Regions from separate parts of the Homo sapiens genome. Here all the other regions are linked to region 2. Evidence: fine-mapped expression QTL. A gene starts in region 2. Each other region holds a variant in brackets. All regions are shown on one strand. Distances are between the middles of the regions.

The links. PIP is the estimated chance that this variant, and not a neighbour inherited with it, causes the effect.
Region 1: its variant is the best candidate, but not a certain one, in a credible set for the expression of HAT1 in neutrophils (BLUEPRINT, PIP 0.62).
Region 3: its variant is the best candidate, but not a certain one, in a credible set for the expression of HAT1 in monocytes (TOPMed, PIP 0.55).

Annotation. Positions count from the first base shown.
Region 1 is chr2:171,958,824-171,969,655 of GRCh38, reverse strand. It overlaps HAT1 (histone acetyltransferase 1), which reads right to left. Exons shown (of 11, transcript NM_003642.4): 5 at 4,139-4,318; 6 at 3,748-3,869; 7 at 3,143-3,247; 8 at 2,707-2,813. Among named protein-coding and RNA genes, the nearest start is that of METAP1D, 36 kb to the left of the region's middle. RefSeq lists an enhancer at 4,864-5,813. The variant A/G (reference allele first, on the strand shown) is at 5,863.
Region 2 is chr2:171,915,768-171,926,599 of GRCh38, reverse strand. HAT1 (histone acetyltransferase 1) reads right to left here and starts at 4,139. Exons shown (of 11, transcript NM_003642.4): 1 at 4,093-4,139; 2 at 959-1,063. The coding sequence starts at 4,099. It overlaps LOC105373740 (a long non-coding RNA gene), which reads left to right and starts at 4,211. Exons shown (of 3, transcript XR_923579.2): 1 at 4,211-4,561; 2 at 5,369-5,520; 3 at 9,557-9,651. It overlaps LOC105373739 (a long non-coding RNA gene), which reads left to right and starts at 9,799. Exons shown (of 3, transcript XR_923578.1): 1 at 9,799-9,832; 2 at 10,770-10,832. RefSeq lists enhancers at 3,865-3,914, 4,055-4,703.
Region 3 is chr2:171,835,972-171,846,803 of GRCh38, reverse strand. It overlaps SLC25A12 (solute carrier family 25 member 12), which reads left to right. Exons shown (of 18, transcript NM_003705.5): 5 at 2,296-2,435; 6 at 9,537-9,683. Among named protein-coding and RNA genes, the nearest start is that of SLC25A12, 53 kb to the left of the region's middle. The variant G/A (reference allele first, on the strand shown) is at 5,287.

The DNA.
Region 1 (10,832 bases), 43 kb before region 2:
ACTCAATCTTTAAGCCCTTTGAAAGTGTCAGTCTGAAATGAACTTAAAACGACACCCAATAATGTATGACATCCTTCAATTCCTTTGTTTCTATGCTACAAAGATAAGCAACATATTTAAAGATAAAATTTTCTTGAATTTAAATCTACAATGATATGCAGGATCAAAAACTGAGTTTTTTCTAAATGTAATACATCATCTAGCAATCGTTTTTTTAAAGCTTCTCATATTAACATACATATTAGTGATAAAAAATCATATTCTAAAGAAGGGAAATGAGATAACAGCACAATCACCTAAGTTATAAACAATTCACATAATATTCTAAAAAGCTATATGGCACATCCCAGAACAATAAAGTACATTTAAAGGACAAATATAATTAGCTCTTAATGTACTACTGATAGATAATAATACTGATATGTATTCCAGCCCAGAATCGATTTCTATTGCCAAATGCAACTCCTTTCAGAAGTCCAGAGGAAACAAGATCATTGATTCTATTTATAAAGTTATACAACTGAGATGTATTCAAATGCTGTACATCTTAAGAGAATAGTATCTTCAAAAGGCAGATGGTATACAAGGAATTGTCTGCCAGTATTTTACCTTAAAATTGAGTGCAAAAAAATGAAAATGGGTGGCAATTATACCACAAACACCCATCCATTGGAAGTAAGATATAACTTAGGCCATCTACAGGAAGTTTCAATTATTATTAGATCTGGCTATCTGTCAAGTAAGCAAAAGGCCATCTCAATATAAAGAATATTCTGGATTGCAAATGGAGATCCAGAGCCTGCAAAAGAACCACAAAGCTAAAAAAGCACACACAATAATGGAGAAACAGGCAACTAAATGACAGAAGAGTAGAAAAATCTGCAGTTTTGTTTTTTAAGGACTGGGTATGGAAATCTAGGAGAAATAAATATCTTAATGAGAACAGCTGATAAGGCATTTTTAGTATTTTTAAATGCTGAGAAATGTTAATGCTGAAAATAAAGGCCAATACCCAGTTGTCAAATTCAGAAGTCCTTTAGCATGTTTAGTCTTTTCTTTTTAGAGACTTCAGTTTCTAATGAATAACACCAATGAATAAAGGCTACCATTATTGATGACTCTTCACTGAGATTTAAGAAATAAAATTCTTTATCTGCTAATTGGTGCTAAGTATCAAGGACTTTATTGGTTGGAGTAGACAGAAGAAAGTGGTTAAGAGGCTTCAGAGAAACAACCCCTGCTGGCACATTACCCACTAGAGTAGACAAAGACTACTTATGTGAACTCCACATTAAAATCACCAAAAATGTCCCTTCATGTAGCAGCAAGTCTAAGCTCTATAAGTTAATAGAAGCTAAACAATTTTCTGCTCAACTAAAAGAAGTGACATAGTCTGTATTATGTTTCTACAATTTTATAAGTCACTAAGCTAGTGAAGTTGTCGCTTAAACAATTTATAACTTTTGTTATAAACGAAGTTTAGTAACTACTACTTTATCTCCTGAGTTTCCAACCCATTTAACAGTAGCAGGAAAGTCAGATGAAAAGATAATTCACCTCTATAAATGTGAAACTCCCTTTTAAAGACAACGTGCTTTCCCTCCAGTTTATTATTCTACAGATCAATTCACTGTTCTGAAGCAACTTCAATTTTATTTACCTTGGATTACTAGTCTATATAAAGAAGGATGAAACAATCTGCTTACTAGCCTATTTATGTGGTTGCCAGTCTTACAACCATTTTTTTTTTGGTGGGGGTGGGTGGGTGGGAGGTGGTGTCTTTAAACAAAATTCCCAAATAGCATTTTTTAACATGTTAATGTTTTAGTGCATGTTAAATAGTATAGTTTGTAACAAAGATGTATCCAAATTCAAACTTGTAAGATTAATAAATTTTAATACCAATTTGCATGTAACTATCTGGTAAAGTATTTTTCAATAAAAGAAAAAGGTAACTTTCAGTTTCATCAGCAATTTTATGAACAACAAATTTGAAAGTTAGAAAATAACATAAATATTCCTTGGGCCACTTTGTTTTTTGGTGGATCACACTTTAACATATTATCTGAAACTCCATCTAATAATGCCTTCTCCTTTTGAAGAGTCAAGTCGAGTAAGTCGAGTAAGTCGTCTTTCCTTCTCCTAAGCATTCTATTCATACTACTACTTCTATGGCTAATCCATACTGAAAGACATTTCCAAAACAAATAGGCCTACATTTCACCTTATCTACTACTGTTGTGAAGGCATGCATTTTAGGAATACAAAACACACACTTTAGGAAATGTGTATTCTATTCAAGAAGTATTTACCTTGACTTTTTTTCTCAGTAAAGTTTATAATATTCTGCCCCTACATGTAAATTAAAGTGCAGGCTGCCTCTAAATAATGCAACTGTTTGCCAAATAAAGTGAACAAATAAGTTATACCATACTTTCAACGTATTTACGCCTGACCAAGACTTCCCCATATATATTCAGCTCATTATCTTCAATTTGTTCCATTATGCACTTCACAGTTAGGGATGTAATCCAATCCCCACAAAGGCTTATGCTCTAAAACATAAACTTAAGCCATCTTTAGATGGCTTAAACACCCTAGGAAAATGTTGCTGTTTAAAATAGTTATTTCTGACAAAAATAAAATCAATCAGTAAGAAGACATTTTTAGAAAGGCTCTTTCAGTAACAAATCAAATTTTACATACCTGTAATATCAAGAACTGTAGGAAATTCAGTGTAGTATCTATGAACTGTTTCAAGAAGTTGAGCACCATGGCCTTGACCTTGAAATGGAGTCAAAATCAGCATCTGACTACAGTAAAGAAATTATTTTAAAATTAAAATATCATAACATGACCAGTTTAAAACCTGCAGATCACTATAGTATTACAAACACTTTAAAGTTTGTGTGATCTTTTTTTCAATCCACCTTTGAGATACCCAAAAATTATCAAGATACTCAAAATTAGTTTAATCTTCTACACTGTTTCAAAGGGAACAATGAAATAAATCAGTACATAGCCCATGAATAATAGTGATTTTTTTTTTAAACAAATCAACACTATTATAACAAGTATTGGAAACTTCAGCAGTTCCTTCTTCTGAAATAAAAGACAAGGCACGTGTTATACTGCCAATTACCTTACACGTGGCCGGGTTTTGTCTGGGTACACATAGTAATTATAGACTGTCATGTAGCCTACGGTCGCAAAGAGCGTAGCTCCATCCTTATTATACTTCTCAAATCTGCAGATAAAACAGAAAGCCAAGCAGGTCAATTACAGTCGCGCTCCCATGCAGTGTCCATTTTCTTTTCCATTCTCTGACTGAATTTTCAGTGTCAGCAAGCTACTCTGTGAGGGCCCAATGGGTACACCTGCTATGTTCTGAATGTACAATTCACTTAATTGGTGTGCAGCAACTTGGATAAATCAGACCTCTTTACATCACTTCAGTGCACTTGCCTATTATAAAGATGAATAGGTGGCAAGTAAAAGAAAACACAGGCAAAGCTCATTTTACTGTTTAAGCCTACATTCAGGGCCCTAACGGACAACAGCATTTAATTCAGCTCTATTCTCAAGGTCTCCCAAAGCATAATGAAGGAAAACTCAAGCCTCATAAACAATAGTTTTTCTTTCCTGGGAAAAATATCATTATACTGTCCCAATAATTGGGCTGCCACAATTAAAATGCTGGCTTTGTGGAGGTAATAAGGTCTACTGTTGCTTTAGAACTGTACTTACACTAGAAAGTAGTGCCATCTTTCATCATCCACGTCAATAAAGCTAGCAGTTTCAATAAACCACATCAAAAAGGTCTGAAGCCTTTCATGATATTCTCGAAAGCCTCTACATGTCATGTCAGCCTAGGGAAAAAGCCAGGAAAAGTCAGGTGAAACTCATCACAAAGGTAAGTGAAAGTCCGCAGAACACAAAATTATCCTGTGGGAAAATGTTTAGAAGTCTCAGATTAAGATGTGAACATAGATACAGACATACACACAAAATAGATCTTGGTTTATAATGCTGATTAAAACTTGTTTACTGCAGTTAGAATAAATCACTGACAACAAAACTACATACAGGTTTCAGGCAAATAGAACTTTACTCAATAAATATTTAGATTTATCTTTACCTTATATATCTGAAAGGTAAAGTTTTCTCCTCCTGTTGGACTGAGAACTGAGTAGGTATGAAGTAAGGTTCCGAATGGCTTGAAATCAACTTCCTTTTCCAGTAAAGAAAGGAAATCATTCGTGTTTGTGCAAAATCCAGGTGGAATGATTTGTCTAATTTTGCCCTCAACATCATCTGCCTAAAGAATAAAGGATATAAAAAATTAATAACAAATTCGACTTTAAGTTGAATATGGTTTATTTCTTTAAAACTGACAAAACCAACACAAATTACAAAACTTTGGTTGAAAACTAAAGAAGTAAACACACAGCGAATTGGAAAAGGATGAGCTTCCTGTGCACAAACTGCATCACACAAAACTGAGATGAGCATAATATAAAAGTAAATAAGAGAAGGCAGGTGACCTGATACCAAGTACAATAATAAGGGCAATGCTATGGACATTTCCATTATGCAGAAACAGCTGACTATACCCCTTCATGACAGTCTGAACTGGCCAAGGCAAAAGGTTGCTTATTATTTTATATGTGTCAAAGAAATCATATTATCCAAGACATGAAAAGATCACCAGCAGTGGTGAGATGAGACTAGAGTCTGACCAAATGAATAGCAATCTCACAACTAGATGGGTCACAATTCCCTCATATGCCAAACTCAAACTAAGATGATAACTTAAAAATATACATATTTAGGAAATAACATAAATTATATGAATGGATATATCATTCTTTTATCCTTAGAATGTGACACAATTCTTACAGACCTGGATTTGTGACAGTAAAAAAGAGACAAGACTGGACAACAAAACTAAACTCGGAGATTAAAATTACCCTTGTTAAACAACCTCTATCAATGTTATCAGCTGAGCAGACTTCATAATCCTTTTCAAAATCCCAAAAGACCACTTGATTGAATACATTTACTACTTCTCTTTAACCATGAATATTTGATGAAGTCTTACAATAAAGTATTGCTGCTTCTCACCAGGCAATAAAACTTAATGAATTGGTCTCAACTTAACAAAACCTTATCCCTCAATACAGTCCCTAAAAGCCTGACATTACATTCAACAAAATGAGCTTGTATTCTATTCAAACTTTTTCCTGAACAATGAGGCCAGGTTTTTACTTAATGGAGTTTGCCGTGAGTTCAGCTGTAATGTTTGTATTGTATCTATTTCCACAAGGACTGACACAAGAACACTTTGTGTTAACTTACTAAGCAGCTCTTTCATACCGTTTACATGCATGATGGGTATTAGTTCTAAACCAAGACCCTTGCTACTTAGCATTCAAAACAGGGAAATTAAGATGCTTAGGACAAAATACACTACAAAAGGCTAATACAACATGCTACTAATTCCTATCCTTTCAACCATCTTTTAACTAAGTAGAAGCAATGCACCTGCAGATGAATAGCACTTTATTATGATTCAGTTACATTTCAGGATAGAGAACCAGTGATGACGTTTATCACAAACAAGTTTTATTTTCAATGCTCTGGTACCACCAACATTTATATATAATTTGTTTATAGGTATAAAAAAGACCTATTATTGAAAATATAGCTCTTCAGCATTTTGCCCAACAGTTTATTTCTAATATGTACATCAGTCCTTGCAACTCATTCACACTCTAGATCAAATAAACTGCATTTCATAGGACAGTTTTTGCTTATTTTTAAAGTACTATTTGATAAATATTTTTCCTTGAAATTGCTAAC[A/G]TGAAGAGGCCATCGTAAGCATATTTTATAGTATCAGTACAATTTCAACAGCTATCAAGGAAACTGTCATAATGAGGGATAGCTGTAATAGATGTGTTGTGTAGCAATTAAAATCCAAAGTAGTGATGAGTAAAACAGTATAGTATGTTAGTTAAGGTTTTTAAAAAGCCAAGAAAAACTACTTTTAAAAAGGGATTTATAATCTATCAGTTTAAAAATCACTTTAAGACTTTCATAGCATGTATAATTTTAACTTTTAAAAACTTTCCTTATGTCCTGTCTTCTCAAGAAGGCATTGCAAATCACTTTACATATCTTGTATCAAATCTACTTCAAAGACTTCTCAGAAACTCTAAGTTTCAAGTAGCACTTTTGGTGGCGGGCAGAGCAACCAGAAGGTTTGAGCCCAACAAAGTTGAAAAAGGGCTTTCAGCCTTCAAAGGATGTCTATTTCCTGTAATAAATATCTTCAAATAAAATAGTTTGCTTTGTGTAAGTTTACACATTAAGAATTTTTACGGGGCAAAGGGCAATTTTAAAGCAAGGAATCTTTATATAATTATATAAATATATATTTATAAATAGTTATGTATATAAATATGTATCTGATATACTTACATAAAATATACAACTTAAAACCAAATAGTTCTTCAACCTAGAATTTACAACTTCGCTTCACTAAAGGGAAAATGTCTGCATTTCTCTATTAAATGGATTCTGCTTTAAGAAAAAAAAAAATCCTGACTACCATGTCTTAGAGATCTGTACTCTTTTCTCAAATATATAATTTAGTTTAATTTAAAATATTCGTCTTTCAGATTGGATTACTGATCAGATAATAAAATCAGCACAAGAGCAAGACCTCATTTAATCATTGTTAATTGAATAGAGTTAAAAATGAACAGAAACTTTTTAATTCCAATGTTTGTGGCTAAAAGTTTAGAATCTATTTCTGAAGATCACTGAAAAATTCCCTGTATTCCAGAGCATTATTCTAAACTTCAACTAAAATTATACAGAAATATAGAAAGGGTAAGAAATTCAGCTGACTAGACACACCAGGGAACTAGAATTTCAAAAAAATTTTTAAAAAGACACCAGGCTGGGCATGGTGGCTCACACCTATAATCCCAGCACTTTGGGAGGCCAAAATACGCACATCACCTGAAGTCAGGAGTTTGAGACCAGCCTGGCCAACATGGTGAAACCCTGTCTCTAATAAAAATACAAAAGTAGCTGGGCGTGGTGGTGTGCACCTGTAATCCCAGCTACTTGGGAGGCTGAGGCAGGAGAATCACTTGAACTTGGGAGGCGGAGGTTGCAGTGAGCCAAGACTGCGCCACTGCACTCCAGCCTGGGTGACAGGGTGAGACTCCGTCTCAAAAAAAGAAACCAGAATACAACCTGATATATTTAATTAACAAAGACATCTCTTACAAATGGTTTCCTAACGCTTGGTAATTTATTTTTAAAAAGGAAAGTGCAAAAGTATTCTAGTTAGATATTCTGGTAGGTGGGTCATTATGAAATATTTTTAGATTGTATACTATTTAACTATGGTCATTTCAAGTTCCAGTGTTCTGTACTTTATTACACATGAACATGTTCATATGGAGCAATTTTTGCATTTCCTCATTATTGAATAAAGCGATATGCCTGATAATTAGTAATCTATTTTTTTAATGTTTATATTTGTATTTATACACATTTGAAAACCCAATAACCTCTCTAACATCTTATCTTAAGCAGCACCATTTGTCTAAATTTGTCTAGTTATTTTTGAGATTGAAATTAAAGGCACGTTAAGTAGGTGGTAACATGTTGTTCTTTACTTGGCTAAAGTGGTACATAGACTTAACTATAATTCTAAGACTACCTAAAATATGCTAAAAAAAAAAAAAACAAGCAAAAGAAATTCTGTATCTACTTAATGTTCTCAATCTCATGTTCTCTGATAATATTTAAGCTTTAACTACAGAATGTATTGTTGAGAAATTAAAAGTGTGAACTTTTTCACTAATGGAAAAACAAAGGTCATATTATGTTTATTTACACTGCATTAGTATTTTGCTACTTGAACTAAACAAGATAAACTTGTCAATATATACTTTTAAAGCTCTTTATGATATTTCATAAAAAGTATTACTTATCAAGAACACCATCACAATTTGAAATTTTACTAGTCTACCAAAGATTTTTTCGAAATTTCTGGAAGTATGTAGGATTTTCCTAGAAAGAGGCTAAACACTCCATAAAATTTTTAAAATCTGCTCTCATATCCTCTCAAATTCAATCCAATTAGTGGGACACTAGGATAAAATAACTGAAATTCACAGTTAATACAAACTTTATCCATCTATTTCAACTTCCTGTACCAAACTTTTCCCAGAAATGCTAGCAATTAGCAAGACAACAATCTTAGTTACCCACTACTTCACTAAAAGGCAATGAAATTACCCCCAAGAAAAGGCAGGAGGTTTTTGTTTTTAAGACAAGAGTCTTGCTCTGTCACCTAGGCTGGAATGTAGTAGTGTAACCATAGCTTACTGCAGCCTTGACCTCCTGGGCTCAAGAGATCCTTCTGTCTCAGCCTTCCAAGTAGCTGGGACTACAGGAGCATGCCATCATGCCTAGCTTTTGTTTTCGTTTTTTGAGACAGAGTCTTGCTCTGTCACCCAAGCTGGAGTACAGTGGCGCGAACTCGGCTTCCTGCAACCTCCACTTCCCGAGTTCAAGTGATTCTCCTGCCTCACCCTCCTGAGTAGCTAGGACCACAAGCACGCACCACAACACCTGGCTAATTTTTGCACTTTTGGTAGAGATGAGGTTTCACCATGTTGGCCAGGCTAGTCTCAAACTCCTGACCTCAAGTGACCTGTCCACCTCGGCCTCCCAAAGCGCTGGGATTACAGGTTTGAGCCACCACGTTCAGCATTTTTTTTTTTTAATAGGCAGGGTCTTATTATGTTACCAAGGCTGGTCTCAAATTCCTGGCCTCAAATGATCCTCCTGAGTCAGCCTACAGAGTAGCTGGCATTACAAGCACAGAGCAGGAGGTGTTAATAAAAGCAAAGGTCAAGGACAACCAGATGAAAAAATCATCAGTGTCTGAATAATCAAGTTTATTGTATTGTAAAATTCAGAATTATGTTTCCTTTAAAGATGGTGGCTAGTAGAGATTTTATAGGCATCTTAATTGTGACTGAAGAATTTTAGGTGCAACTAGAGCATTCAGCTTGGAAAAGTAAAAGAATGGATGATTAAAAATTAATGTAATGACATAATCCTAATAAGAAATAACTTCTAAGCAGATGTTATGGCTGCTGACCATCTATGCAGTATGATCTGCAAAGCCCTAATATATTAGACTCAAACCTAACATCCAAAATAAAATTTTTTTATTGTTTCCACTTAAACCTATTTCTTCTATAGTTTTCCCAGTTAACAGTACCATAATTGAACTTGGGCAATGGGGTTCTCGTTTTTTTTCTTCATCTGTCACATCTAATTCAACAGCAGACCTCCAAAATGTTCCTTACTCTGACAACTAAGTCCAGTGTCACCTCTAACACTGCAATGTTCCGGTCTCTTCTTTCACTTTTGCCCTATACAGTGTGTTCTCTGCACAGCAGCCAGAATCATATTTTAAAAATATAAATCACATTGTTTATGACCTCCACCTACTTAAGAATGCCTCTAAAGAATGCCAACTACTCTTATTTCTTGCAAACACCTATCACAGAACACAAGATCCTATATGATGATCTAGCTTTGCATCCCCTTCAACCATCTCCTACCCCTCTCTCCATCACCACAATGATTTAACCCTGGTAATCTTTCTGGACTACAAAAATGCCAAAAATGCTGTATTTTTAGAGCCTTTGTATCTTAGTAAGCTTTACCCTCAGATTATAACATGGCTGGTTCCTCCTTTATCATTCAGAAATGAGCAAAATGTATCTTCATAATACTGCCTGAATTTAATTTGTGTATTTACTATTTTGTTTACTGACTGTTCCTCTTGGCTAGAATGTAAGCTCCATGACTTTGTCTGCCACTGTATCGCTGGCATCAACAACACAGAAGGCACTATGGAATGAACACTCACTGCAAACTGAGATAGAAGAAGCAAGCCCATGACCCACATATCCCCTACCCAATCGTTTTTAATAAGGGGAAAAAAGTCTTTGTTTGAATACGCAATATAAATGATCTTTGACCACAAAGCAAATAAGTAACTCTACAAAGAGACATTATAAAAGATTGATTCCTTATTCCTAACACAGTATTTCTAAATGGAAAAACCTAATTTTCAAGAATGGAACAATTAGATGTCAATGCAAATACACAGCTATTTTCACTGCATGAAATATTTAAAAGATTTATCTATAACTAAATCAATAGTTCCTTTGGAAGAAATCAATTCAGTGCTATCAGCTGCAACTGTAAAAAACAAAAACCCTCCAACAGTGGGTTTACACACAAGGAAAAACATCACCTGCATTTTTAATAAGAATATCTAGCTGGGCTTGGGTCTGGAGAATTTAGCAATCTACATATTTGATTATGAAAAAACTCTATTTTAATAAATGTGTTAAATGCTAGTTTATCTAAGATTACATCTTTTCAAACATCAAACCACTACAGTATTACTCAGAATCACTTTTGTATCTGCACAATTTCAAAAGTTATCCTGGGAAACAAACTATATAAAATAAAACAAATATTAAATGTAGTTACATATTATTTATCTGGCAAGCTCAGTCATCTCAAACATGGCTGGGAAGTGGGGAAAAACACACAAAAAAACCAAATAGAACTCAAAATATTTCTAATACTAAAGTTGAATAATGAATATGAAACTACTTCAGATCTTTTTCATGCTATGCACAATTCATATTATATGAAACTATTTCAGATCTTTTTCATGCTACGCACAATTAGTTTTATAGATGGGGCATAGGGTTGGC
Region 2 (10,832 bases):
TTTTATAAGCCAGGCGTGGTGGCTCATGCCTGTAATCCCAGCACTTTGGGAGGCCAAGGTGGGCAGATCACCAGAGGTTGGGAGTTCAAGACCAGCCTGACCAACATGGAGAAACCGTCTCTACTAAAAATACAAAAAATTAGCCGGGCGTGGTGGCGCATGCCTGTAATCCCAGCTACACGGGAGGCTGAGGCAGGAGAATCACTAGAACCCAGGAGGTGGAGGTTGCAGTGAGCCAGGATCACGCCATTGCACTCCAGCCTGGGCAACAAGAGTGAAACTCCGTCTCAAAAAAAAAATTTTTTATAAAAATTAGCCAGGCTTGGGTGGTGCACACCTGTGGTCTCCTAGCTACCTGGCAGGCTGAGGCAGAAGGACTGCCTGAGCCCAGGGGTTGGAGGCAGCAGTGAGCTATGACCATGCCGTGGCACTACAGCCTGGGTGATAGAGTGAGACCTTCCTTGTCTCTTTAAAAAAGAAAGAAAGAAAAAAAAGGGGTGAGGGGAGGAAATGAAAGAAGAGAAGGAAGGAAAGAAAATAAAAAAGACAGAAAAGAAAATTGCCAAACTGTTTTCCAAAATAGTTATATCACTTTACATTCCCACCAGCAATATACAAGTGTTTTTTTCCACATCCTCACCAATATTTGCTATTGTTTATTATTCTTACAGGCAAAAAAGTAAAAAATATTTTTAAGAGGCTAAAACTATATATACTTATTACTTTTTGCCCCACCGTCTTTCCTTTTTATATAAAATTCTGTCACCTTTCAAACATCTACACCTTCCATGACATAAATCAAAACTGAATAAAATCTGAATATGTTCAATAAATGCAGAAAACCATACATTTGCATAAATAACTGCTCTTACATAAAATTTTACTTCAAATTTAAAATGAAAGATTATATATACACACACAGTATGTACATAACATCACTTAGAAATGGCATACATACCTAATTTTAGTTCAATTGCTGTGTTGGTGTTACATTTGTACTCTGCCAGTTTCTTCTCCACTGCACTCTTATATTCTACCAAAAATTTCTCCATAGCACCAAATCCTAAGAGAAAAGGTTTTTAAAAGGTTTAGTTTGGAAGTGACTTAAATTGTCAAACCTGCAATAGGGTTATTATAAGTGGAATAGGGGTATGATTTAAAACATGCTGATAGATCATAAAAGCACAAGTCATTCTCCACATACTCTTAAATAAATGTATTAAGAATGCCAGCTGGGCACGGTGGCTCACGCCTGTAATCCCAGCACTCTGGGAGGCTGAGGTGGGTGGATCACAAGGTCAGGAGTTCGAGGTCAGCCTCGCCAAGATGGTGAAACCCGTCTCTACTAAAAATACAAAAATTAGCCGGGCACGGTGACGGGCGCCTGTAATCCCAGCTACTTGGGAGGCTGAGGCAGGAGAATCTCTTGAACCCAGGAGGCAGAGGGTGCAGTGAGCCGAGATCATGCCACTGCCCTCTAGCCTGGGCGACAGAGCAAGACTCCATCTCAAAAAAAAAAAAAAAAAAAAAGAATGCCTCATTACAAAACAGAAAAAGAAATCACTTTTGAGATACAGGCTTATAAACTAGGAATACTTAATATAAATGAATAAACCTGAAAATTAACATGATAGATTACTAACATTTCTGAACATGTACTAATACAAATTACCTGCTAGGATTTATACCTAAGTCGTCTTTTTCATTATAAGATGTAAAAAGCAAAATGAGAATGTCCTCTGATAATTATGACAGAATTTCATTTTAAGTATTGGAAAAAGTCTACCAGAGTGCTTCAGATAAGGAAATGATAATGCATGGAATGTCTCAAGAAGAATACACAAATATCTGGTAACCATAGTTACCATGGGTAAAGAAAGAAGGAAGAGGAACAGGGGCACAAAGAAAACATCTTTCCACTGTATTAAATATTTAAAAATCATGTATGCCTAAAGTCATAAACTGTGAGCTACTGGCACAATAGTTTTACTACATAGTGGCTACTCAATAATATACATAATAAATAACATTGGAAGATATCACTATCAAGAGAAACTTTCAAGATAACAAATCTCCTGACAAAATGGGCATATGATTAGTAAAAATGGGCTGGGCGCGGTGGCTCACGCCTGTAATTTCAGCACTTTGGGAGGCCGAGGCAGGGGGATCGCGAGGTCGAGACGGATATCATCCTGGCCAACATGGTGAAACCCCATCTCCACTAAAAATACAAAAATTAGCTGGACGTGGTGGCGCGTGACTGTAGTCCTAGCTACTCCGGAGGCTGAGGCAGAATTGCTTGAATCCAGAAGGCAAAGGTTGCCGAGATCGCGCCACTGCACTCCAGCCTGGTGACAGAGCGAGACTCAGTCTCCAAAAAAAAAAAAAATCAGTAAAAATTCAGACAGAAAAAAGCCATAAGCAAAAAATAAAAAGGGGTACAATGATGTGCTATAAACTTCAAAAAGGGGTTAAAACACACACACAGAAAATGGGAAAGACTTGAAGCAGTACAGATTAATAGTCTGGAGTGAGAATTCCTGGATTCTGACTATTTCACACACTTACTGAGCTAGTAAGCTCAGGGAACTAGAGCACATTACTTAACCCCTCTGACCCTAATCTACAGAACCGAGATTACAGAATTTACTTCGAGGAATGTAAGCAACAAAATTTAACCTGTGAAATCATATATTAGCTCAATCTGCACAATTCTATAAGTAGGTATTACATCAACCCCATTTTACATTCAAAAGTTCAGGCTTAGAAAGAGGTTTAGTTGAAGGGCATCCAACTACTAAATGATGGGCCCAAAATTCGAATTTAGATGTAATTCTTAGAGTACGTCCTCCCTCTTCTGTGGTACTTCAAGATCCTACAATCTCCATCTGGTAGAAAAGTCCTTCTTTAAACATCTGTAGAGCTCACACAACAGCTTGTCTATCCCACATATTCATAAAAATGGAATGGTTAATGTAGAGAGACTATGAGGAATGCCCTGTAAAGAGATGATAAAAGCAACAAAGGCCAGCGAAGTGGCTCAATCCTGTCATTCCAACACTTTGGGAAGCTGAGGCGAGAGGATGGCTTGAGGCCAAGAGTTCCAGACCGGCCTGAGGCAATACAGCCAGACTCTGTCTCTAAAAGGTTAAAAAAAATTGTTTTTTTTTAGCCGAATGTTGTGGCGCATGCCTGTAGTCCTAGCTACTCGGGAGGCTGAGGCAAGAGGATCGCTTGAGCCTACGAGGAGTTGGAAGCTGCCCGGAACTATGATCGCTGCACTCCAGCCTGGGCGACAGAGAGACCCTGTCTCAGGAAAAAGAAACTGTCCATAACTTCAAAAGATAAGTAATCGAAAAAAATAATCACACCAAAACAGCCTTAATACACGTACAAAGTAATAGCAATTATACATTATTAAATGTTGTAACTTGAAGGGTCTCTAGAATGTACACAAGAGAATTGTATTATAGTAGTCCAACCCTAAAAGAGAAGGGAGCAGTTCAGGAACAAAGTCTTTCTCAAAGGGCATCTAAATACGATCCTCGGAATACTAAAGTGTGACAGATTAACGAGACGACTACGAAGTCAGTCGAGATCCAAGTGGGAGCGCCAGAGCAGGGCAAGGCAGCAATGCGCTAGCTCAGAAGTTGACTGTAGTGGAAGGTAGACGGAGACCTGGAAGAGGAGGAGGATCTGAGCATTAAAATCAGCTGGCGGGAACAGGACCAGATGTACAAGAGCTGAAGCAAGCAGCAGTGGACAAAAGGAATGGGAAGAGAAACAGGCCCCAAGGCATGTGGCATTTTACGAGCCCAAATCATGACGCTTTTCCCTGGCGTCTTCGGCCCTCGGTAGGGGCCGGATTGCTGGCAGAAGGCGCAGAACCCCAAGCAGTTGGGGGCGGGGGCGCGGACCGCCGCCAACAAGGAGCTGCTGGGCTGAGAGTTCCGCGCTTCCGGTCCCAAGCAGGCCTTCTGGAACCCAGGCTACAGCCCGAAAGTTCTAGGCGGGCATTGTCACCACCGTCTCGGCGTTCTATCCCCGATCTGGCCGCCTCCTCCCCTTGGTAAACTTTTCCCGGTAACTTACCCGCCATTTCCGAGCTACGATCACCCGCGGCTGAGGAAGGACGAATCAACCCGCGCGCTCCCGGGCCGGAAGTGACCGCACAGTCTGACATATTTTCCCCGCCCACTCCCAGCGTGACGTTAGCCAATTAAAGGAGGCGTGTCCAGGAGCCCGGCGGCGGAAGCGCCTCAAGAGGCGGGGCTAACGCCGAGAAGTCTGCGCGGGCCGTTGCCTAGCCACTGCGAATGCCGTCAGCCGCTTTGCAGGCCTGAAGTGGAGAAGGAGGCCGCAAACGGACTTTCGCGGTTGAGATGCTCTCTGGCCCTAGGAAAGTTTCTCTGGGGTTGATTTGATCAATACAGACACTTTACGCCTGTTTTCCATACCCGTCCCTGAGATGTTTTGGAGACTGGCTGAAAATCTTTCCTCTTGGCCTGGACAGTGCATCCAAACACCTGAGCCCTGTGGGCAATTTTACCATTTTACCTAGGTAAAATGTAGAGGTTGAGTTTCAGTTGCGGGAGAAGCTTTCACTTGTTTTCCTCATTTGTTTCTCATTTTGCTGTAAACTTTAACACCTTTTTTCCTTTCTCCCCTGTTTTTAACGTATACAGTATGATATTTAGGTACTCTGCTTTCACTCTGCAGGTTACTAAGAACCGTTTAGCGCGCAAAAATCGTTACCTAGGCCGGGCGCGGTGGCTCACGCCTATAATCCCAGCACTTTGGGAGGCCGAGGCGGGTAGATTGCCTGAGCTCAGGAGTTCGAGACCAGTGTAGCCAACATAGTGAAACCCCGTCTCTACTAAAAATACAAAAATTAGCCAGGCATGGTGGCAGGCGCCTGTAATCCCAGCTACTCGGGAGGCTGAGGCAGGAGAATCGCTTGAACCCTGGAGGCGAAAGTTGCAGTGAGCCGAGATTGCGCCACTACACTCCAGCCTGGGCAACAGAGTGAGACTCCGTCTCAAAAAAAAAAAAAAATTGTTACCTAATAAATACCTCAAGTAGCCTGATGTAGTCTTGCATGCCACATGTCCTAGTGGTTTGAATTACATCACAAGGTGCTACCTGATTTTAGCCATAGGCCTTGTTAGTATTTAGTAGCTGTAGGAACTGCTTTCCCCAGAGGATAAACCACTATTTAGGTATCCACAAATATTCCCACAATGTTGGCTATACACCAGAATTCCTTATCTCAACAAATATTTGTTAACAGGTTTTACAGTGATGCACGCTAAAGCTAAAATGGACCCTTGGGATGATGGTCTAGAACTAACACGCCCTCTCATTTTAGAGATGAGGAAACCAAAGCCCAGAAAAGATAAACTGCCCAAGTTCATTCTCAGTATGCAACCTATGCAGAGTGCAGTTCATCAGATACTCAGCCCAGTATTTATTTGCTCAACTATATAGAGATGGCTTTCCTGAAGATAAAGATCAGAAAAGGTACTGAGAATGCCCAGATCCTTTTTCTTTCTTTTTTTTTTTTTTTTTTTTAGACGGAGTTTCACTCTTGTTGCCCAGGCTGGAGTGCAATGGCACAATCTCAGCTCACCACAGCCTCCGCCTCCCGGGTTCAAGCGATTCTTCTGCCTCAGCCTCCTGAGTCGCTGGGATTACAGGCATGCGCCACCACACCCAGCAATTTTGTATTTTTGTAGAGACGGGGTTTCTCCATGTTGGTTAGGCTGATCTCGAACTCCCAACCTCAGATGATCTGCCCATCTCGGCCTCCAAAAGTGCTGGGATTACAGTCGTGATCCCAAGAAAAGGTTTCAAGATCCTTTTTCTTGAAACCTAATGATACACAAGAAATTACAGTCATAGGCCGGGCGTGGTGGCTCACGCCTGTAATCCCAGCACTTTGTGATGCCGAGGCGGGCGGATCACGAGATCAGGAGATCCAGACCATCCTGACTAACATGGTGAAACCCTGTCTCTACTAAAAATACAAAAAAAGTAGCCGGGCGTGGTAGCGGGTGCCTGCAGTCCCAGCTACTCAGGAGGCTGAGGCAGGAGAATGGCGTGAACCTGGAAGGCGGAGCTTGCAGTGAGCCGAGATCCCGCCACTGCACTCCAGCCTGGGCAAGAGCGAGACCCCGTCTCAAAAAAAAAAAAAGAAATTACAGTCATAATGTTAAGACAGAAAACTGAAATCAATGAGACTAATGACATTATGGATCAAAAAAGGAAAACAATCTTTTTCTTTAATAATCATTTTTGGCTAGGCACGGTGGCTCACACCTGTAATCCCAGCACTTGGGAGGCCAAGGCAGGCAGATCACCTGAGGTCAGGAGTTTGAGACCAGCCTGGCCAACATGGTAAAACCCTGTCTCTACTAAAAAGTACAATAAATTAACCAGGCGTGGTGACATGAGCCTGTAATCTCAACTACTTGGGAGGCTGAGGCAGTAGAATCGCTTGAACCCAGGAGGCGGAGGTTGCAGTGAGCTGAGATAGTGCCACTGCACTCCAGCCTGCTCAAGAGAGCGAGACTCCATCTCAAAAAAAAAAAAAAACTTTTCTTTTCAAAATGGCAAGACTTATCATTTCTTTCCAAAATCACCTTATCTATGGATCAATTGCTGACCAGCAATTATGATCTTTATAAGTAAGAAATCAAGAAGAATTACGTTTTAACTGTGGTATATCACAGATTATTAGTCCTGTGATATTATGGTTAGTTGTAGGAAAAAAATATGATGAAACTTACTGATATATTGTATGACTAGCATTTAATGTGATTTGCTTGCAGAATTGAGGTTTTATATTGTCCTCGTCTTAGATGTTCACTTTTTTTTTTTTTTTTTTTTTTGAGACAGGGTCTCACTCTCACCCAGGCTGGATTGCAATGATGCAATCATAGCTCACTACAGCCTCCAGCCTCCAACTGCTGGGCTCAAAAGATCCTCCTGCCTCTCAGCCTCCCAAATAGCCAGGACTACAAATGTGTGCCATTGTGCACAGCTAATTTTTTTGTTTTTTGTAGAAATGGAGTCTCAGTATGTTGCCCAGGCTGGTCCCAAACTCCTGGCCTCAAGCAATCCTCTCAGCTTGGCCTCCCGGAATGCTAGGATAATAGGTGTGAGCCACCATGTCCATCCTCACATTTTTTTTTTTTAATGTTACAGAATAGATGTTTTGGTACAGTTTACCTAAAAGATAAAAGAATGACTTATTTTGGAAAGGTAATGTGAAAATTACCCAAAAGGAAAAAAATTCTCTTTTTTTTTGTAGGGATTTCTTTCCTTTTTTAACTTATATTTTACTTTGTTCTAAAGAGAATTTAAGAAAGCAACTATTACAATCATGGAATAAAATTTCTATGAAAGGAATATGCTATCCTCATATATATATGGAAGAGACAACATATCTTGTGGGAAGTTTACTGCCCTACTAGTCCCAGTTCTACTACTTCATGCTTGTTCAACCTTGTTGCATCTATTAAGTGGAGATAATAGTACTGCCCAGTCACCACACTGGGTTGCTGTAAAAACTAAACGGAATAATATTTGTGAACGACCTTTGTAAACTCTAAAACTCTATGCAGGTATGAAGTGGTATTACTATGATAACATTTATTCTAGTAAGGGAGATTTGGAAAAGGCATTTTCTTCAGAGAAAAGGGCCATATTACACTATTAGGTATGAACTGGCAACCATGTGTTGGTACAGGCTCAAGTTCATATGGACTGATAAACTTCACTATCTTGCTTTGAAACCTCCAGAATGGATTAAAATTTGGCACAAAAAAATATGGTCATCGGGCCGGGCGCAGTGGCTCATGCCTGTAATCCCAGCACTTTGGGAGGCCGAGGCAGGCAGATCACGAGGTTAGGAGATCGACAGCATCCTGGCTAACACGGTGAAACCCCGTCTCTACTAAAAACACAAAAAATTAGCCAGGCGTGGTGGCGGGCGCCTGTAGTCCCAGCTACTTGGGAGGCTGAGGCAGGAGAATGGCATGCACCCAGGAGGCGGAGCTTGCAGTGAGCCGAGATCATGCCACTGTACTCCAGCCTGGGAGACAGACTCCGTCTCAAAATATATATATATATATATGGTCATCAGAAAATTGATGCAGGAAATCAATTTTAAGAAAAATGCATGTATGTAATGTGTCTTCATTTCAAAATGCATACCTTTACACAGACAAATAACAGTAGTTAGTTAGCTCATTTTTTTAGCTCGTAGTGCTAATGAGCATAAAGTTATGAGTCTCAGTTCCCAGAGCAATTATCCAGAAACCATTATCCAGCTAGATGACTTCCAAATGGGATACAAGAAAGAAAATAGGCTGGGCGCGGTGGCTCACGTCTGTGATCCCAGCACTTTGGGAGGCCGAGGCAGGCAAATCACATGAAGTCAGGAGTTCGAGACCAGCCTGGCCAACATGGTGAAACTCCATCTCTACTGAAAATACAAAAATTAACCGGGTGTGGTGGCATACACCCGTAATTCCAGCTACTCAGGAGGCTGAGGCAGGAGAATTGCTTGAGCCCGGGAGACGGAGGTTGCAGTGAGCCGAGATCCCGCCATTGCACTCCAGCCTGGGCGACAGAGCGAGTCTGTCTCAAGAAAAAAAAAAAAAGGAAAGAAAGAAAATAAAAATGGACCGGCTCATGTTGAAAACTACTGTAAGAGGACCCCTATCCTAAATACACAAAAATTACCAACAGTCTTTATTTTCCAACTCTAATGTACTACCCATACGTGTATAAATTAGTAACTTTTGAGGGGCAATTTAGAAATTTTAACACATTTTTACAAATGTAACAAAATTTTCAATTTGTGTATCCTTTGAGGCAACAACAGTTCCACTTTTAAGCATTTGTACTGCAAAACTATTTCACAGAAATGCAAAGATACACTAAAACAAAGATGTTCAATGCTGTATTATTTTCACTGGCAAGTTGAAAATAGCCTAAACTACTAGCACAAGGGGCTGGCTAATATGTTCTATCTCCTATACAATAGGCTAAAAAATAAATTACAAAAAATATAATGTTATTTCATTTATATAAAAATATATTTTGATATAAACAGAAAACATCTGAAAGCATACCTCACAAACTTAACTATAGTTGCCTTTAGGGGGAATTTAGAGATGGGGATTAATGAGGTTTTTTGTTTTTGTTTTTGTTTTGGAGACAGAGTCTGCCCAGGCTGGAGTGTAGTGGCATGATCTCGGCTCACTGCAATCTCCACCTCCTAGGTTCAAGCAATTCTCCTGCCTTAGCCTCCCGAGTAGCTGGGGCTACAGTGAGCATCCGCCACCACACCCAGCTAATTTTTGTAATTTTAGGGTTTCACCATGTTGGCCAGGCTGTTCTGGAACTCCTGACCTCAAGTGATCTGCCTCCTTGGCCTCCCAAAGTGCTGGGATTATAGGCGTGAGCCACCGCGCCCAGCCTAATGAGTTTTTTTATTCTTTAATACCATTTGTCTCTTTCAATGATGATGTATTGGTTTCTTTCACAGTTAGAAACTTATCCATCTGGCTGCGCGTGGTGGCTCACACCTATAATCCCAGCACTTTGGGAGGCCAAGGTGGGCAGATCGCCTGAGGTCCGGAGTTGGAGACCAGCTTGACCAACATGGAGAAATCCCGTCTCAAAGAAAAATACAGAATTAGCCGGGTGTGGTGGTGCATGCCTGTAATCCCAGCTACTCGGGAGGCTGAGGCAGGAGAATCACTTGAACCCGGGAGGCAGAGGTTGCGGTGAGCCAAGATCACGCCATTGCACTCCAGCCTGGGTAACTAGAGCAAAATTCCGTCTCAAAAAAAAAAAAAAAAGAGAAACTTATCCATCTTTTTGGAGGTTTTTAGACATGGTTGCTAACTCCCTATCCTCTTCTCTACATTCGACGTATTATGGTACACAGACTCTAAGGGAAGCAATTTAATCAAAACTAGGAACAATTAGTTGAAAACTAATATTTTCCATTTTGCATTTTGTCATTATTTACAAGCAAAGATTGGCCAAAATAACAAGCACTATAATTATTTATACCTGTTTTCAAAATGACTGTCCAGTGATGCCTGCTTTACTTTTGGAAACTAATTTATTAGAATGGCATTAATTATGTATTTGTCTACTTTTGGTAGGTAATACAATAATAACTGTGATATTATACATTCTATCATTAAAATGCTATTTTAAGTATTATTATTATTATTTTTTTTTTTTTTGAGACGGAGTCTCACTCTGTCGCCTCTGTCCCAAAGTGCTGGGATTACAGGTGTGAGCCACCGCACCAGGCCATTGTCTTTCTTTTAATGTAAAAAAACACATAACATATAACTTACCATGTTAACTATTTTTAAGTTTATAGTTCAGTAATATTAAGAATATATTCACCTTGTTGTGAAATCTGTCATTTTAATAGGTTGGTTTTCAGTCAACTCCTTTGTAACCTATTTACCTATATCACTATGTACAGCAGGAGTTTTAACTTCCCATGATGTGGACACACAAAGTAACAAGGTTTATACCAACTGTATAATGGTGCTAGTTCAGTGTTTAGTTCATAAACCTTAAAAGAATAAAAATAAAGTTTAGTTTTATGGTAGTGTTTTCTCTAATTCTTTTTACAAATTGGAGTTTTGAGGGACTATATGAAGTCAACAAGCTAAATCAACCACTGTGCAAGTTAGTGAAAATTAAAGAGATTTTTTTCAAAAATTTTCTAGGGGGATCCAGACTTTAAGGTTAACTTCATTAATCGCATAAACACAGGGCCAGTCCCTTTGCCA
Region 3 (10,832 bases), 80 kb after region 2:
GACAGAGCCTTGCTCTGTCACCCAGGCTGGAGTGCAGTGGCGCAATCTTGGCTCACTGCAACCTCCGCCTCCCGAGTTCAAGCAATTCTCCTGCCTCAGCCTCCTGAGTAGATGGGATTACAGGCATGTGCCACCATGCCTGGCTTATTTTTGTATTTTTAGTAGAGACGGAGTTTCACTATGGGGACCAGGTTGGTCTCTGACTCCTGACCTCGTGATCTGCCTGCCTTGGCCTCCCAAAGTGCTAGGATTACAGGTGTGAGCCACTGTGCCCAGCCAAAAAAATTTTTATAGATAATTGAATTTTCTTAGCTTGAACGCTTTTGCATTTTGGACTTTATTTTACATAGTTTCATATTTGAGATTCTGATATTTTCTTATTATATAAAAGGGATTCAATTTCATTCTACCATTATATAAGAATTATCTAGGTAGTAATATATACATTTATTATCAAATAATTATATTTTAACTCTTGAAATAACCTTTAAAAGGTTACCATGAAATAACTATTCCCTTTAATAATTGTAATGTTACTTAATTAAATATAGTAATTTGTTCTAATTTGCTTTCCATTTTTAATTTTTTTTAACTTGAAGATGAAACACTTCTTTTTGTTAGACCTTAAAAGTAAGAAATTAATTAATTTGGGACTAGAAACAGCTAATTAATTAAGTTAGATCCTAAAAATCTTTAATAATCTGCTACAATATTTGTAGCCCTAAATATTTTCTGCTATCTTTATTATTTTAATTGTTTTGTAAACTTTAACATATTTTACAACTTCGAAGTTTCACATAGATTTAAGGATCATCTTTTGTGTTGGTTAGAAACCAGGATCCCACAAATTGCTATTGGGTTAATTCTTTGCTTTTTAAATTTGTATTTATGTAAGGTGAAAACGCTTGACCTATTGAAAACTTTGAAGTATTTGTCCCTACTTAGGGAAGAAATGAATCCTGCATTCCATTTCAAAGAAAAGATGAGAATCCCATCTCCCCAGTGACATCCAATGCCTTCTTCCAACTTTGCTGATTGCTGCAATCTATTCAGAGCTATTATATTGACTCTAGACTGGTAGAACGTCCAGTTCAGAATTCTTACATTCCCCTATCCCAGTAGTAATGCTTTTATTAAGAAAAAGTGTATGTATATAAAACTAAAGGGAATCCATTAAACCATTTACAATATGAGATCAGTATCTTATTTAAAGAATTTGCAGAAATTAGAGAAAACAGCATAGTTGGAGATTATAAAACTTTAAATGTGTATTTACTAATTCTCTAGTATAACTGATAGCTATCGATGGCAAAACTCTTTCACTAATAAAATTGGCTGAAATTTGAAAATAATTTTGTTCTTAAGACATCAGTTAAACAGGCTTCCTGCTTTCTTAACTTTGTTCATGATTTTTTTTTTTTGGCATGAGCTTCTAAATTAGTTTATCCAGTCTATGCTTGTTAAAGTACCAGTCATTTGTGAATTGACTTTTATAGTAAGTATAGAACTCTGTAAGAATGTAAATAACGTTGTTAGTGCATGAAGACAAGCTGCCAGAGGGTTTTGGTTGTATGTTACACAGTGTGACTAGTTCCTATCTAAAAATTAGTGTACTGTATTTAGCTCTTTATTTAAAAGTGAAACACTAATTTAACTTATCTTAAAATATTTTAATAGTTCAGACTAATAATCATGGATTTTATGGGGATTTTGAAGCTTTGTGTCAAGACCATATTTTTAACAATATCAGAAGCTTTTAATAAGGTGCTTGCTGCTGAGCTAATGATATGCTTTTGATAGTTTTTCTTATACCTATCTTCAATAGACATATTCAGGCTAGTGTGAATGTAATAATCAAGCCTCAATCAAACCATACTTAGTATGACAAATATTGCATTATACTGTAATTTAGGTATTCATGCTTCTGATAAAGGGTTTAATTCGACTCCTTGAGAAACTGGGAAAACACTATTGATTTTATACGGGATGTAAAATAGCAGCCATTTATGATGTAAGATAGAAATCACTTTCTAATTAAAATTAAATAAAGAGAAATTAAGAATCTCATGGCCTTATATGCAATGGTACATATTCTTAAGTGTAAAATTATATTTTTTGTATCAGTTGTGTTCCTGCGCATGGTTTCTGGGCACACAAAAAAATTGCAGTTATTTTAATAGAAGCAGATGATATTGACTTTTAAAACTTCTCTTAATTTTTTTCTGTAGGAACATTGCAGTGGTTTAAACTACTTATTCCAGATATAATTGATTTATTTTTGTTTTCCCTTTTAAGAAAATGTCAAAGAAATTTTTGGACAGACTATTATTCATCATCATATCCCTTTTAACTGGGATTGTGAATTTATCCGACTGCATTTTGGGCATAACCGGAAGAAGCATCTTAACTACACAGAATTCACGCAGTTTCTCCAGGTGAGCTTAGTTTTCATAACAGGTATCAATATATACTATTCTTCTGTGTCCTTCGCTTTGTATTTATTAAGTTTATTACAAAAATAGAAGTTCTCCATGGTATTTCACTCCTATTTTTTAAATTTCCCCCTCGCCAGAGACAACTTCTTTAAACTCTTAATAGCTGTTTCTTTCAGTGTTTACTTCCATTTATTTAAATAGTAAAGCACTTCTACTTTTTTTCTACTTTTAAATACTTTTTAATTGTATCCTAACTATAGAAGATTAGAAGCTAGTTCTTTCACGACTGGGCGCAGTGGCTCACGCCTGTAATCCCAGCACTTTGGGAGGCCGAGGCGGGCAGATCACGAGGTCAGGAGATCCAGACCATCCTGGCTAACATGGTGAAACCCCATCTCTACTAAAATTAGCCGGGTGTGGTGGCGGGCGCCTGTAGTCCTAGCTACTTGGGAGGCTGAGGCAGGAGAATGGTGTGAACCTGGGAGGCGGAGCTTGCAGTGAGCTGGGATCACACCACTGCACTCCAGCCTTGGCGACAGAGTGAGACTCCATCTCAAAAAAAAAAAAAAAAAAGCTAGTTCTTTCACCTCTCTCCTCTCCCTCTTTATCACAGACTTGGACTTCTGTCCCCTTTCCCCCAATATAATTATGTCATGATTCTGCTTAGATCAGTAATCCTATGAGTTATTATAATTTTGTAAATACTATTGGTGGCTGAAGTTATTATATATTTTTTTGAGACAGAGTCTGGCTCTGTTGCTCAGGCTGGAGTGCAGTGGTGTGATCCTGGCTCACTGTAACCTCCACCTCTTGGTTCAAGCAATTCTCATGTCTCAGCCACTCAACTAGCTGGGATTACAGGAGTGTGCCACCACACCTGGCTAATTTTTGTATTCTTAGTAGAGGTGGGGTTTTGCCATGTTGGCCAGGCTGGTCTGAACTCCTGGCCTCAAGTGATCTGCCTGCCTTGACCACCCAAAGTGCTGGGATTACAGGAGTGAACCACTGCACCTGGCCTAAAGTTATTGTTCTTAGAGTTTCTAGTTTTCATTTGTTTAGTTTTCTGTGTACTAATACTAAGTCATTCTCAAACCTTGGCCCAATTATTAAGATCTCTTTTTAATGCGTTTAAAACACATTAGGTATTCTATTAATTTCATCTTCTTGGAGCTCTCCAGGAGCTTTCTTTTTTAAAAAAATTTGAGGTAAAATTTACATAAAATTAATCATTTAAAAGTGCACAATTTAGGCCAGGTGTGGTAGCTCACGCCTGTAATCCCAGCACTTTGGGAGGCTGAGGTGGGCAGATCACTTGAGATCAGGACTTTAAGACCAGCCTGGCCAACATGGCGAAACCTTGTCTCCACTAAAAATACAAAAATTAGCCAGGCGAGGTGGTGAGTGCCATAATCCCAGCTACTGGAGAGGCTGAGGCAGGAGAATCACTTGAACCCAGGAGGTGGAGGTTGCAGTGAGCTGAGATTGCATCGCTGCACTCCAGCCTGGGTGACAGAGCGAGACTCCATCTAAAAAATTAAAAATAAATAAAAGTGCACAATTGAGTGGCATTTAGTACGTTCACAGTGTCTTATATCTAGTTCCAAAACATTTTTATCATCCCAAAAAGAAACCGTGTTCCATTAAGCAGTCACTTTCTATTTCTGCTTTCCCCTGAGCTCTGGCAACTTCCAGCCTACTTTCTGTCTCTATGGATTTACCTATTATGGATATTTAATATAAATGGAATTGTACAATATGAACTTTTCTTTTTTTTGAGACAGAATTTCGCTCTTGTTATCCAGGCTGGTGTGCAATGGCGTGATCTCAGCTCACTGCAACCTCCACCTCCTGGATTCAAGCGATTCTCCTGCCTCAGCCTCCTGAGTAGCTGGGATTACAGGTGTGCGCCACTATGCCTGGCTAATTTTTTGTATTTTTAGTAGAGACAGGGTTTCACCATGTTGGCCAGGCTAGTCTCGAACTCCTGACCTCAGGTGATCCACCCACCTCAGCATCCCAAAGTGCTGGCATTATAGGTGTGAGCCACCACGCCTGGCCAAACAATATGAACTTTTGCATCTGTTTTTTTTTTTTTCCACTTAGCATAATGTTTTTAAGAATTATCCATGTCATAGCATGTATCAGTGCTTTATTCCTTTTTTGTGGCTGAATACTATTCCATTGTATAATATAGTATAAATATGTTATATTTTGTCTATCCATTCATCAGCTGATGGACCTTTGAGTTGTTCCCACCTTATGGTTATTGTGAATAGTGCTGCTATGAACATATGTATACAAATATTTGTTTGAATACCTGTTTTCAGTTCTTTTGGCTATATACATAGGAGTGTAATTTCTGGGTCATATGGTAATTCTGTTTAACTTTTTGAGAAACCACCTGACTGTTTTCCACAGCAGCTGCACCATTTTCCTGTTGTTTCCTCACCTGCTTCAGGGCCAGAAGCCAGACTGTGTAAGCTCACTGCATAGGAGTCATTCTGTGATCACCCTTCACTTTTACCTTGGAGAATCCATTTGCTGTTCTGTTACGTTGAACCTCCTGTTTGCTGCATTTTATCTCTTCTTTTATTGCGGTTTACCTATTTTTGGTAGAATACTTCCTGCAATGGCTTCTTGAGGAAAGTGGAATAAAATTTTTTTGAGACTTTTCATATGTAAAAACCTCTTGTTCCGGCTGAGGGCAGTGGCTCACACCTGTAATCCTAGCACTTTGGGAGGCCAAGGTGGGGAGATCACTTGAGTCCAGGAGTTCGAGACCAGCCTGGGCAACATGGCAAAATGCCATCTTTACAAAAAATACAAAAACTAGCCAGGTGTGGTGGCACAC[G/A]ACTATAGTCCCAGCTACTCAGGAGGTGAGGTGGGAGAATCACTTGAGCCCAGGGAGGTAGAAGCTGCAGTAAACCATGATCCCACCACTGCACTCCAGCGTGGGTGACCGAGTGAGCCCTGTCTCAAAAAACAAACAGTCTGGGTGTTTTGGCTCACGCCTGTAATCCCAGCACTTTGGGGGGCCAAGGCGGGCTGATCACTTGAGGTCAGGAGTTCAAGATCAGCCTGGCCAACATGGTGAAACCCTGTCTCTACTAAAAGTGCAAAAATTAGCCAGGTGTGGTGGCAGGCACCTGTAATCCCAGCTACTTGGGAGGCTGAGGCAGGAGAATCTCTTGAGCCTGGGAGGCAGAAGTTGCAGTAAGCCAAGGACAGGCCACTGCACTCCAGCCTGGGCGACAGAGCGAGACTCCATCTCAAAACAAACTAACAAACAAACAAACAAATCCCTCTTGTTCCACCATTATGCTAAGATAGTTTGGCTGGTTATTGAATTCTAGTAGGAGTTTATTTTCCTTATAATTTTGAAAGCATTGCTCTTTTGTTTTCTAGTTTCCAGTGTTGCCACAGTGCCATTCTCATTCTTAATTTAATCTTGAAACTTTTTCCACTCTGACTCGGGAGTGTTTTAATATTTTTTCTTTTCTTTGGTGTTTATGAAATTTCACGATGGTATTCCTTGGTGTGAGTTTATTTTTATTCATTGGTCTGGGCTCTTCATTCATTGGGCTTTTCTAATCTGGAAACTTACGTCCTTCAATTCTTGAAAATTTTATTACTTTTCTTATTCTATTTTCTTAGTTTCTAGGACTATTAAATGTTACATTTATGACCTTTTAGTCTTCTTTTCTCTCCTATTTTCCTTCTGAGCCTTCTATTTTCTATTTCTGCTGTATTTCTAATTTTCAGGAACTCTTTTTGGTTTTCTGAATATTCCTTTTAAAAAATAGCATACTGTTCTTGTTTCATGGATGCACTCTTTTCTTTCACTTCTTCAAAGATATTGAAGACAGGTTTCTTTGTTGTTTTTTTAAAGTTTTCTTCTTGCATAGTGTCTGCTTTCTCCACATTTATTTATTTATTTTTACTCTTTGTTTGGGTCTCTGTTTTTCTTTTTCTCTTTTTTTTTTGAGTCAGGGTCTTACCTTGTCCCCCAGGCTGGAGTGCAGTGACAGGATCATGGCTCACTGTAGCCTTGACTTCCCCAGGTTCCAGGGATCCTTTCACCTCGGCCTCCTGAATAGCTGGTACTACAGGCGTGTGCCACCATGCCTGCCTAATTTTTTGTATTTTTTGTAGAGATGGGGTTTTGCCATGTTGCCTAGGCTAGGTCTTTTATTTCGGATTAGGGAATCAGGGAAAAATTGTCTAGTCTCCAATCTGGAATATTAGATCTGGCTTTTGATGTTTTGGTTGCTGAGTAATAAGTAGTTGGAGGTCTCAGTGTTCAATTTTGCAGAAGGACTTTCAGTTTACTACCTTTTTTCACTGTAGTATTCTCCCTCTCAACTGTGTGTGGTCTATGCTGGTTCAGAGATCCTCTGTTAAACTCCTCAGACAGTAGACCTCTAGTCTTCTGCCAAGGTTGGGAAAGGGTGGAGGCCTTATTTGGAGTAAGGCAGGGGTAACTAACTGCTTCTTAAACAGATATCCAGCTAAGCCCCTTGTTTTCAGCTCCACCTTCACCATCACTTCCAGAGGTACCAATGCAGCTAATAATTGAATCTTTTGGGGGTCCTGTCATGTACATTGGCTTCCTTTTTGGCTTTTTCTGCTTAGTTTTTTTGAGTCCATTAAGTCAGTTGTCATTTGCTTTTCTGCTTTCTGATCTTAAAAATATAGTTGCCATCTTCTCCTTTTCTGTTGTCTTTGTCCTTGCGTTTCTGTTTTGTTTTGTTTTGTTCTTTTATTGTTATTTTAGTGGAGAGTGGCATTTTGGAAGACGGTGGAGTTAAATGTACAAGTTCACTCTCATCCAGTCACACTGTTTCTGAAGCTCTGCTAATTTTCATCTCATAATTAGATGAAATGCATTTTCAAGGGCATAGGATCTTTCCCTTCAGCATAACTGCCTTTCTTTATCTTTCCTTTAGTTCTCCTATCCACCTACCTACCTACCTACCTTTTTAACCCAAGATTTATTTATTTTACCTTTTATAAGCCCACAGTATTGTTTTTCTTCATTAGGATGAGCACAGATTTGAAACTATGGGCTTTAGGTGTGGGTATTTGGAGGTGCCAGTGTTTGTTCTAACTCTTTTCCCTGTTAGTGCTTATCTAACTCACCTTATAAAATTCTCAAACTTGAAAAGTTGAAAATATATGCATTTGAGAGCTGACTTTTTTAAAAAAGGAAATGTCTGCCTGATTAGTGTTTAAGATTCTTCCAAAGATTACTTTCTCTCTTTCTCTCACTGTTTTCCTTGCATTTACAGAGTCTATTTTACAATATCTATTGTACCCTGATGTTTTAATTATACTGTATAAACTGAGAGCCGCATATATGTAACTTCTTTTTTTCTGTGTTTAACTTCTCATTTTTAAGTCATTAATTTTATTTTTTAAAATCTTTTTTATTTTGGAAGACTTCAAATATACTCAAAAGTAGAGAGAATAGTGTAATGAACCTCCTGGACCTATAACCAGCTTCAATAATTACCACTTCTTGGCCAATCTTTTTTATCTATACCCTCCACCCTGCCTCCTGCAGGATCATTTGGAAGCCAGATGCACATACTCTATGATTTTTTCATCTGTGATCCTTCAAATACGTATCTTTAAAAGACAAATAAGAGTCCTTTAACTGTTGACCTTATAGAAAACAGACAATCTATTCTACTAACACTACTCCTTCAGTGAGCATTCTGCTTCATCTTGAAGGTAAAGGTCCACATCTTCTTTAGTACTGAGTGTTATTAATAAGGCTAAATTGTACCCATGGCTACCATTTGATATTTCTGGGTGATTAAGACATATAGGGAAGACAAAGACATAAGAAAGAGATAGAAAAGAGGTAGAAGGAAAGAAAAAGATATAAGACAGGGAGTGAACCTGTGTCTACTTTTGATGCTATTTAGGAATATCTTTGCCATGGGGACCAATTTCAAATCCATGTAATGATGTAGATGGATTGAAAATTCCCACTTCATTTGAAGGGTGAAGTGGTTGGAGCTGAGGTCATGGGAAAATGGAGTGAGTTATCACAAGTCCATAGGAAAATATAATTAAATAAAAATGATGAGACTTCTATAAAAACTACTTTTAATGTCATGAAAAGTTAAAGCAACATTAATTTGTAGTCTTTGATAAGTAAATGTGAATGAAAATTATGTAATCTTTAAATAATATGTATATACTTAGATATGACTATTATTTACAGAGTTGCAAAGAGTGTGACGGTGGCATCCAATAGCAGCACCATTGTTATGTTTGCTAACAGGTTTTTTGCATTTAGTCATGGATCCCCACAACAGAAATGCTCTGATTTTGACTTTTGTATAGTACACAGGGGATTGCTGGAACATTTTGTTGTTTTTGTGGATATCACTTATTACAAAGTTTGGTTGCCCAATAGTTCAAAAGTTCAGAGATATTCTGGACTGTCTTACAGTTTATGAGTAACGGTGCCCAGAGCCAGTGATAGCTGAACACTACTTTTGCAGTTTGTTATTCCTGACTTTCATTTTAGAATGACTGAATATTGCACTTACCAGTTGGTAGAGTTTCTCACTGAGTTTATTTGAAAAATTTGTTTGAAAAAATGGTCTCTAATTCATTTATAGAATGACAGAGAGAGAGACTTTGATTGCAACATTTAAAATTGAAAAACTGAAAATGAATCTAAACTCTTAATTCATGAAGTACTCTTTGATGACAGGTAAGCCTTCAAGCAGGAGAGATAAATTACTGTATATTTTAAAGGCTGAAATGAAGCACCAAAAACATTATTCTCTGTTTTCAGTAATGAAAACTTGTCAAGTAAAATCTAAGGGTTATTTTTTCCTACCTTTCCTTTATTGATGTGCTCTCATTCATTCTTTTTCCTGAGGAGTAATATGTAGTACATTTTTAAGAAAGCTCATGCTTTTTGAAAGAAATTAAAAGTTTTGTTGCAAATTCAGATCTGTGCATTGTTTGTTTTGTAGTAAGTACATGTGTGGGAAGGATATCTGTCCTTCCTTCCTTTCCAAACCATGTACTTGGAATGTGTTTAACCAGCTTAATGCCCTATTTCTAATTTCCTCACAGGAGCTGCAATTGGAACATGCAAGACAAGCCTTTGCACTCAAAGACAAAAGCAAAAGTGGCATGATTTCTGGTCTGGATTTCAGTGACATCATGGTTACCATTAGATCTCACATGCTTACTCCTTTTGTGGAGGAGAACTTAGTTTCAGTAAGTAAAAAGCAAGTTCTTTAACTTTCTATTTCCTCAAACCTTTTGATCCATTGAGTCCTGGATTGCCTCCAGGGACTCATATGACTCTCAACTATTCAAATTTCATGCTTGGTTGGTAGAAAGTAAACAGGTTTGTGTGTGTGTGTGTGTGTGTGTGCATGTGTGTGTGTGTACGTGAATGTATGTATGTGTGTGTGTAATGGAGGTAGAGGTGATGGTGAGTTATCTTTTCCCGGATCATAGTTTTATTCAGAGCCACCATCTTGCTGTCATCTATTTCCAAATTGTTTATTTCCATTTACAGAGTCCAGTTCAAGGGAAACAAGAGTTTATAGACAAGGGTGAGCAATTACTTTTTCCAGTGGGCAGTAACTCTCCCAGACACTACTGCCTTCATCTTGGCCTCTTTCCACACCACCGGGCTCCCAAGGTCTTGCTATAAAGATGGCTCCTTCCTTTGTTGCCTTCAGGGTGCTGTCTGCCGGAGGGATCATCACTGGCTTCTGCAGTGTTTTAATAACCATGCCCATGGCAGAAGGTATGGAGGAAATATGTGGCCATCAGCCTCTGTGGCTCACTCCTCTCTCTGCCCCTTCACCTGTACATTCAGTCTGTATGCACCAGACATAGTTTTTTGTTCTGTCAAACTGCTAATCTCTATAAAGTAATCATCTGGACCAATAGCAAACTCATGTCATCCACTTCCTCACATAGAGTGGTGAAACTTTCCTCACTTACCCGTTTTCTTGTCTATGCGTTGTACTTATGTATAAGTTTTTGATTACTGCTTGTTTTGAATGGAGGGAAGCCAATGAGTGCCTTTGTTGTTTCAGCTGAAGATCATTATCCCTGATTTAGACTGGGGTAGAAAGATCAACTTCTGTTCTTTTTCTTCAGTGAATCTGAACATGGACCATGTCACTTTCTCCTACACGTTTCACCTCCTTGACACCATCCCCCACTCCCCTGCCCTCACCTCATACCCCAACCAAAAAAATGAAAGAAGGAAGGAAAGAAAGGGATAAAGGGAGAGAGAAAGAGAGAAAGGGAGGGAAGGAGAGAGAAGGGAAGAGAACCCTAGAGGGAGGGGCTCAGTACCTTAGTGGGAAGGGACTCATTTAATCTTTTCCAACTAGGTTAGATAGA